3 separate regions of the Homo sapiens genome follow, and all the other regions are linked to region 1. Evidence: fine-mapped expression QTL. A gene starts in region 1. Each other region holds a variant in brackets. All regions are shown on one strand. Distances are between the middles of the regions.

The links. PIP is the estimated chance that this variant, and not a neighbour inherited with it, causes the effect. A credible set is the group of variants that fine-mapping cannot tell apart.
Region 2: its variant is the best candidate, but not a certain one, in a credible set for the expression of LINC01880 in left ventricle (GTEx, PIP 0.66).
Region 3: its variant is the best candidate, but not a certain one, in a credible set for the expression of LINC01880 in left ventricle (GTEx, PIP 0.58).

Annotation. Positions count from the first base shown.
Region 1 is chr2:242,082,608-242,085,372 of GRCh38, forward strand. It overlaps LINC01880 (long intergenic non-protein coding RNA 1880), which reads right to left and starts at 1,531. Exons shown (of 4, transcript NR_146651.1): 1 at 1,489-1,531.
Region 2 is chr2:242,057,487-242,060,251 of GRCh38, forward strand. All of the region lies in intron 3 of LINC01237 (long intergenic non-protein coding RNA 1237), which reads left to right. The region is part of intron 2 of LINC01880 (long intergenic non-protein coding RNA 1880); the gene reads right to left. Among named protein-coding and RNA genes, the nearest start is that of LINC01880, 25 kb to the right of the region's middle. The variant T/C (reference allele first, on the strand shown) is at 1,736.
Region 3 is chr2:242,036,353-242,039,117 of GRCh38, forward strand. All of the region lies in intron 3 of LINC01237 (long intergenic non-protein coding RNA 1237), which reads left to right. It overlaps LOC105373980 (a long non-coding RNA gene), which reads right to left. Exons shown (of 3, transcript XR_924086.3): 2 at 2,696-2,765; 3 at 1,643-2,521. Among named protein-coding and RNA genes, the nearest start is that of LINC01880, 46 kb to the right of the region's middle. The variant T/A (reference allele first, on the strand shown) is at 1,560.

The DNA.
Region 1 (2,765 bases):
TGAGTTTACCTGTATAGCAAACCTGTACATGTAGGGTGATGAAATAATCTGTACAACAAACCCCCCAGACATGAGTTTACCTACATAGCAAACCTGTACATGTAGGGTGATGAAATAATCTGTCCAACAAACCCCCAGACATGAGTTTACCTGTATAGCAAACCTGTACATGTAGGGTGATGAAATAATCTGTACAACAAACCCCCCAGACATGAGTTTACCTACACAGCAAACCTGTACATGTAGGGTGATGAAATAATCTGTACAACAAACCCCCCAGACATGAGTTTACCTGTATAGCAAACCTGTACATGTAGGGTGATGAAATAATCTGTACAACAAACCCCCAGACATGAGTTTACCTGTATAGCAAACCTGTACATGTAGGGTGATGAAATAATCTGTACAACAAACCCCCAGACATGAGTTTACCTGCATAGCAAACCTGTACATGTAGGGTGATGAAATAATCTGTCCAACAAACCCCCAGACATGAGTTTACCTGTATAGCAAACCTGTACATGTAGGGTGATGAAATAATCTGTACAACAAACCCCCCAGACATGAGTTTACCTACATAGCAAACCTGTACATGTAGGGTGATGAAATAATCTGTACAACAAACCCCCCAGACATGAGTTTACCTGTATAGCAAACCTGTACATGTAGGGTGATGAAATAATCTGTACAACAAACCCCCAGACATGAGTTTACCTGTATAGCAAACCTGTACATGTAGGGTGATGAAATAATCTGTACAACAAACCCCCCAGACATGAGTTTACCTGTATAGCAAACCTGTACATGTAGGGTGATGAAATAATCTGTACAACAAACCCCCAGACATGAGTTTACCTGTATAGCAAACCTGTACATGTAGGGTGATGAAATAATCTGTACAACAAACCCCCCAGACATGAGTTTACTTGTATAGCAAACCTGTACATGTAGGGTGATGAAATAATCTGTACAACAAACCCCCCAGACATGAGTTTACTTGTATAGCAAACCTGTACATGTAGGGTGATGAAATAATCTGTACAACAAACCCCCCAGACATGAGTTTACTTGTATAGCAAACCTGTACATGTAGGGTGATGAAATAATCTGTACAACAAACCCCCCAGACATGAGTTTACCTACATAGCAAACCTGTACATGTAGGGTGATGAAATAATCTGTACAACAAACCCCCAGACATGAGTTTACCTGTATAGCAAACCTGTACATGTAGCCCTGAGCCTAAAATAATAGATTATTTTAAAAAGATACTGGATTTATGAAGTCCCCAGGAGGTCAGGAGGAAGAGAGAACGCTTGAGACAAGCATGGTCAGTGAGGAGCTTGCAGGGATGGCAGAGGGGCAGGGAGCAGCAGAGTTTGAGTAGAGGAACCAGAAGCCCAGCCCTGGACCCATCTCTGCCTTCCTGTGTGTGCGCCTAACTCAGCTTTCAGGTGAGAGCTGGGGCTCAGGAGGTTATGTACTCACTTGCAGTTGCACGTCTAGGAATCCAGATGATGGTCCCATGTCTGCTGTGCCCCCGCCCTACTCTATTGCTAGGACAGCCAACCTCTACTCAGGGGCTGCAGCCGGTCAGCTGGCATCTACCAGGCTCAGCTGAGAGGGGTTCAGAGCCTAGAGGAGCTGTGGCATGCCAGGTCTAGGCTGCCTGTTGGCTGCTGTCAGGATGAATGCTGTTGTAGATAGATTCTTTTTGGCAACCAGAGACTTTCAGACGTCAATGGCCATGCAGTCTCCATGTTGCCCTTCCCATCCTGACACCACACACTCCTTATGCTGCAGCCACCATGGATGCCTGAGTGAACAGCCCTCAAATTCTATTCTAACTCCTTATTTAAAAGATAAGGAGACCCAAGACTGAGGAATTTGACATAAATAAGGAAACCGGCTTGCCTGAGCTGACTACTGCCTTTGGTCTCACGATAGCTGCCTGGTGGCCTCTGACTTTCACAGCTAGTACAACCTTCCAGCACCTTCCAGGATTGGTTTCTGAAAGAGGGGATTGTTTTTGCTCCCAGTCCCCCTAAACATTCTGTAGGTAATTACAGCACTCATGGCCCCATTTTCTCACTGTGTATTTGCCACCTTGGGTCTGTTCAGATGGCAAGCTCCCGAAAACCAGGCACCTCCTCCTTGTACCCATGGCACCATCGTGGTGCCTGGCTGCTGTCAGCACAGAGCATTAGCTCTGAGACACCTCCTCCTTGTACCCATGACACCGTCGTGGTGCCTGGCTGCTGTCAGCACAGAGCATTAGCTCTGAGACACCTCCTCCTTGTACCCATGACACCGTCGTGGTGCCTGGCTGCTGTCAGCACAGAGCATTAGCTCTGAGACACCTCCTCCTTGTACCCATGGCACCGTCGTGGTGCCTGGCTGCTGTCAGCACAGAGCATTAGCTCTGAGACACCTCCTCCTTGTACCCATGACACCGTCGTGGTGCCTGGCTGCTGTCAGCACAGAGCATTAGCTCTGAGACACCTCCTCCTTGTACCCATGACACCGTCGTGGTGCCTGGCTGCTGTCAGCACAGAGCATTAGCTCTGAGACACCTCCTCCTTGTACCCATGGCACCGTCATGGTGCCTGGCTGCTGTCAGCACAGAGCATTAGCTCTGAGACACCTCCTCCTTGTACCCATGACACCGTCGTGGTGCCTGGCTGCTGTCAGCACAGAGCATTAGCTCTGAGACACCTCCTCCTTGTACCCATGGCACCGTCGTGGTGCCTGGCTGCTGTCAGCAC
Region 2 (2,765 bases), 25 kb before region 1:
ACAATAGTCTTGCCCTCCTAAAGGGAGAGAGAAATAGGAGAAACGGGTAAGGAGCCTGGTACGGGTCGAGTGATAAACGCTGTGGAGAGCGAAGCAGAGGGGCTGGGGTCCTGGAACCCCAGGCAGGGTCCACACTGAAGTTTTAAATTTAGGGGATCGGGAGGGTTATTTTGGTCAAATAGGAGGGGAACCTGCAGGAGCTACTGTGCTCTGGACGAGGAATGAGGCTGGCAGGCCTGGCCGGGGCATCCAGCTCTGTGGACCTGAAGCTTCCGTGACGGTGGCACTCATTTAGGGATGACAAGCCTTAGAGCCAAAGGTGGAGGTGAGCGCGAGACCAGGTTGAGCAAAGCCCCATCAGCCACGAGGCTTCCTAGAGGGCAGGGGGACTGGAGGACACAGGAGCATGAGGGCAGGAGCCCTGAGAACAAGGGGCCATGCTGGCAGGCGAAGATGTGGCTGATTGTCTGGGAAGGGGAGGCCAGTGCTGGGTGAGGGCGTGAACCTGCGTGCCCTTATATTTTGTGGTAGCCATATTTACAAAAACGAAACAGTAACCGGTAAAATTCCTGCTGCCGATGTATTTTACTGAACTCAGTATATCAGAACAACTATCCACTCACCCTGAAATCAATGCGACACATCTTTGGACATTTGAGACTCTATGCCACATACCAAGTCTCTAAAATCCAACTTGTATTATACATCTATAGCCCCCGCCCCATTCAATCCAGGGCAGCATTGCAGTGCCGTGGCCCCCAGCAGCCCACATCAGAGCCTGGGTGCTGACGTCCTGGCAGGGGGAACTGGAGGCGCCAAAAGGAAATGCCTTCTTCAGTAGGGGAGTGTCCCCCGCCCCACTGCTCTGGGAACAGCTGCAGGCAGGTTCCCTCTCTCCAAGCACTCTCAGACAGTGCTGTGATGAGACCCTTGTCACAGGTATTTTTGGGGACTCTGTGTCTTCTAGGAAAGGCTCCCGGGTCGTGGTCTCCCTGACAAGAGTCCTGCACTATGCAGGTTGCTCTCCTGATCCTCAAATGTGTCCTGGAGCTTCCCCTGGACCCTGGACACCCCAGCACATGGGTGAGCCGATGTCCAATGCAGGCCACGCACGAAATGCATCCACAGTGGGAGCCAGTGGTCATCCTGGTCAGGGCCAGCCTGCAGTTACCCCTGCCTGGCAAATAAGACATGGAGGTCGGGAGGGCTGGTTCCCTACTCCTGGTCATGTCACGGGACATTCTGGAACTGAGGCTCCATGTCTAGAAGCAGTGCCTGCTGGTGTCCCTGTGAGCTTGGGGGCCCATCTTCCAGGCCAGTCCTTGGTTCCTGCATAATCATTATGATACTGCCTTTCTTCTTCATAATTTTATGGAGGCTGACTTTATTTTCATTTCTCTGGTATATTTTTTAAAAACAAAAAGCAAAGTAGAAAGAATAATGTAAGACAAATGCCATTTGTTTTCTACCCGATAATATTCTGTAATAATTGTAACTCTCTTTTAACAAAATAAAAAACATGAACTGTTGCAGGCAAACCCCTCTGTCACCCTCCACTGTCTTTGCCATTTCTGATCTTTGCCAGAATTGTCTTTTAAAATTTTATTAGTGGTGAAATATGACAGTTTCCCACCTAAGATCAGAAGCAGCAGAGGGCTGCCTGTGCCCACCAGAGCCGTTCACGATGGTGCCAGGAATCCTAGTCGGCTTACTCAGACAAGCAAAAAACACATCA[T/C]GTTTGGAAAGAAAAGAGTGAGATTATCATTACTCACAGAGGGCATCATCATCTGTAGAAAATTCTGCATAACATGTAAACCAAAAATAAATTCTAAGCCCCCCAACAATCTAAACAGACTCCTCCCCTTGGCCAAGGGCATTCCAGAGTTAACCTGAAAAAATAGCTCAGCCCATGATGGGAATGGGGTCGACGAGCCTCGTTATTCCCTCTCCCATTTGGAATTCAGGAAAAGCTGACTAGCATTAATATCAACACAGATCTCTTAAGTCTGAGAAGAAACATTTACAGTCTATACCTGGAGGCTTCATTTGCATGATAAAACCTTGGTCTCTACAATCCCCTATCATAACCCAGACACTCCCTTCTATTGATAATAACCAATTGCCAATCAGAAAATCTTTAAATCTTAAATGACCTGGAAGTCCCCCACTTAGAGTTGTCCCACCCTTCGAGATGAAACCAACGTACATCTTACACGTGTTTGATTGATACCTCATGTCTCCCTAAAAGGTAGAAAACCGAGCTGCCCCCGACCACCTGAGGCACATGTTCTCGGCATCTCCTGAGGCTGCGTCACAGGACATTGGCCACTCTCTTTTGGCTCATAATAAATCTCTTCAAATACTTTACAGAGTTTGACTCTTTTCATTGACACAAAAAAATGCCTAGAACTAAGAGGGAAGTTACCAAGGCTGAGGATACACAGAACAACTGTTTCTATAAACTTGCAATGAACAATTGGGAATTTACATTTAAATATCATTTATAAAGTCATCAAAATATGGAACATTTTGATAAATATTTGACAAATATTTTTAAGACTTGTAAAATGAAAACTAGAAAATATTGCTAAGATAAGTTTTAAAAGACCTAAATAAACAGAGAGGAAAACCATGTTCATGGACCAGACGACTGGATATTTGGATGGTGTCTCTCTCCTTAAATTAATCTGTTCAAAGCAATCCCAATAAAATCTCAGTAGGTTTTTTTTTTTGTAATTAACATCAATTTTCAGCTGCTTCTTAAA
Region 3 (2,765 bases), 46 kb before region 1:
TCCGTGCTGGGTCCTGGGGTGTGTGTGCAGGTGTGTCTGTCTCCACCTCTGCACCAGGTCCTGGGGTGAGTGTGTGGCTGTCTGTCCCACCGTGAGTGTGCAGGTGTGTCTGTACTCCTCCACACCAGGTCCTGGGGTGAGCATGCAGCTGCCCGTCCCGCCGTGCGTGTGCAGGTGTGTCTGTCTCTCCTCTGCACTGGGCCCTCACTCTGCTGCTCCCCCATTTTGTGGCTGGGAAAATTGTGATATCTGTGATTTTTCTCATCAGTCACAGCTGGAACTTGCACGACTCTGTCTCACACCCATTCACACAGCCGTGAGGACATCGATGTGCAGCCTTGACCTCCTGCAGCACATTCATCAGGCTCCCGTCGCCGCTGGGCCATTGTCAGGGCCTGGTTGCCCACCTGGCTGAAGCCTCCCCGTCATCACACCCCTCACCGGAGCAGCCCCAACTCACAGGCTGTTAGTTGTCACCATCAAGCACACCAGAAATTTTAAAATGATTTCTCTAAGCCAGGCACAGAAAGGCAAACATTGCTCTCTCTCTCTCACTAATTTGTCAGATTTAAAAATTGAAACAATTGAACTCATGGACATGGGGTGGGGAAGGACGGTTGCCAGAGGCTGGAAGGGGTAGCGGGGCTGGGAGAGGTGGGATGGTTAATGGGTGCAAAAATAGAAAAATGAGTAAGACCTGGTGTTCGATAGCACAACAGGGGGGCTACAGTCAGTAAGAACTTGACTGTGCATTTTAAAATAACTTAGGGAGTGTAGTTGGGTTGTTTGTAACTCAGTGGATAAGTGCTTGAGGGGACAGACGCCCCGTTTTCTGTGATGTGCTTACTTCACACTGCATGCCTGTATCCAAACATCTCACATACCCCATAAATTCATACACCTATGTGGCCACAAAATTTAAAAAAATCATTTATCTAAGGATAAAAGTGAAGTTCCCCTCGTTTCATGCAGCTTCTCTTCAGTGCTTTTGTTTTTCGAGATGAACCTTCCTCACTGGTATTGTTGGCACCAGGAGTCTGTTCGGGACAAGCTCCCGCCATTTCTCACCACTCCCAACTTCGGGGGAGTCTCTCTAAACACACGTGTTTTGTGGTATTCGGCTGACATTCTGACTACTGTAAGAAATCAATGCATGACATACAAATTCACACAATTTTGGGGAGGGAGAGACTGCAGGTTATGCTTTCAAAAATTTTCATGATTTTAGATTGTTTTTTCTTTTTAGAAGTTTTCTTTTTACGTGAGATATTTGACTCAAGCATTGTTAAAAATGCAACAACATCATAAAAGTTTGGTGGTTCAAAAAATAATGATGACACAAAACTCTAGTGCCTCTACACTTGGACAGTTTTAATTTTTTAATTTGGTAAATCTGGTTACAGAAGCCAAGTGATTTTTCAGGCACACCAAGTTTTCAGCGCTTGGCAGGAAGTAGAAATGAACATGTCTAGAATTTTCCACCATGCAGACCTTCAGAGCATGTGTGCCTATGTCTCTATGTGTATGTATACACATATGTGCAGACGTGTTTTTGTGTG[T/A]GTATGAATGTGTATCATGTGTGTACATGTGTGTTATTCATGGATTGCTTTTGCTAAGCAACAGATAATGTAGTGATTCCAAAGGAGTTTCAAGCTCATCTTTATTCTTTTTTTATTTTGCTGAGTAAAAAGTACAGCTGTAGCGGAACGTCCTCCTTAACTCACTGTGCGAGACGGATGTCACACGGATGACTATAAAACGTAGCATGCATGACGTATGCAATTTATAGAAAGAAAACCAGATGGAAATAAAAGAAGAATAAAATTGGCATAAATGACCCCAAATCACACCTGAAACACACTCTGTGGCCACTGATGGCTTCGGGCGCTCTGCGTTCGGGAGGCCTGGAAAGTCCCAGCTGCGAACATCTCCGCGGCCCCGTGACTCGGTTCACCGCATTGCTCAGACATCCACACCTCCCGTTACTTTACCTTAAGCCTTGACTTATTTTTCACCTTTTAAAGTTAAGATCCGTGATCAGTGAGTGCCACTCTGTGGGGAGTCACGTGTTTGAGATGGGAATTTCCACAGGCAGCTGAGAGAAGAGGATGGAGTGGGTGTCCCTCCGAATGCTGGTGTCTGATGCCTCAGTGAAGGCGAAAGGGTTGATCCTGAGAGGAGAAGAATGAGCTCATTTGTGGAAGAAATGATAACTGCTGACCACAATACAGGCCTTCAGGAGTGGTGCTGAGTCCAGGGAGCATGTATTAAATGCCATTTATGTGGCAAGCACAAAGCTAAGGACTGTCCAGTCTGTGGAGAGTAAATCTCCTTCCTGCCTTGCAGGCTGACAAAGTCCAATCATTAGTGACCATTCATGCCAGGAAGGTGGAGCTGCCTCCCCAGATGCAAACAAATCCTGTGGCTTTTCCCTGGTAGCCTCGGTGGTGGGTCCCGGTGGGGAAACAGTGACAGATGAGGGTGATTCCCAGGGGTCCTGCGAGAGGCCATGGTCGGAGGGCTGGAAGGAGGCGGGAAAGGTGCTGGTTCATTCACAGCTCCAGGTGGGCTGGAGGCATCCAGGCGGGACTGTGCCTGGGAACACAGGTGCCACCCACGGGGAGCTGCTGTTCTAGAGACGGCCATGGGCACCTCTGGGAACCCAGGAGACCCAGTGACCCACAGCTTTTATCACCTGGCTTCACAGATGGGATCTGGGACTTGGCAGTTAAACCGCTTAGGGAGGTCCCATGACTGCCAGGTGG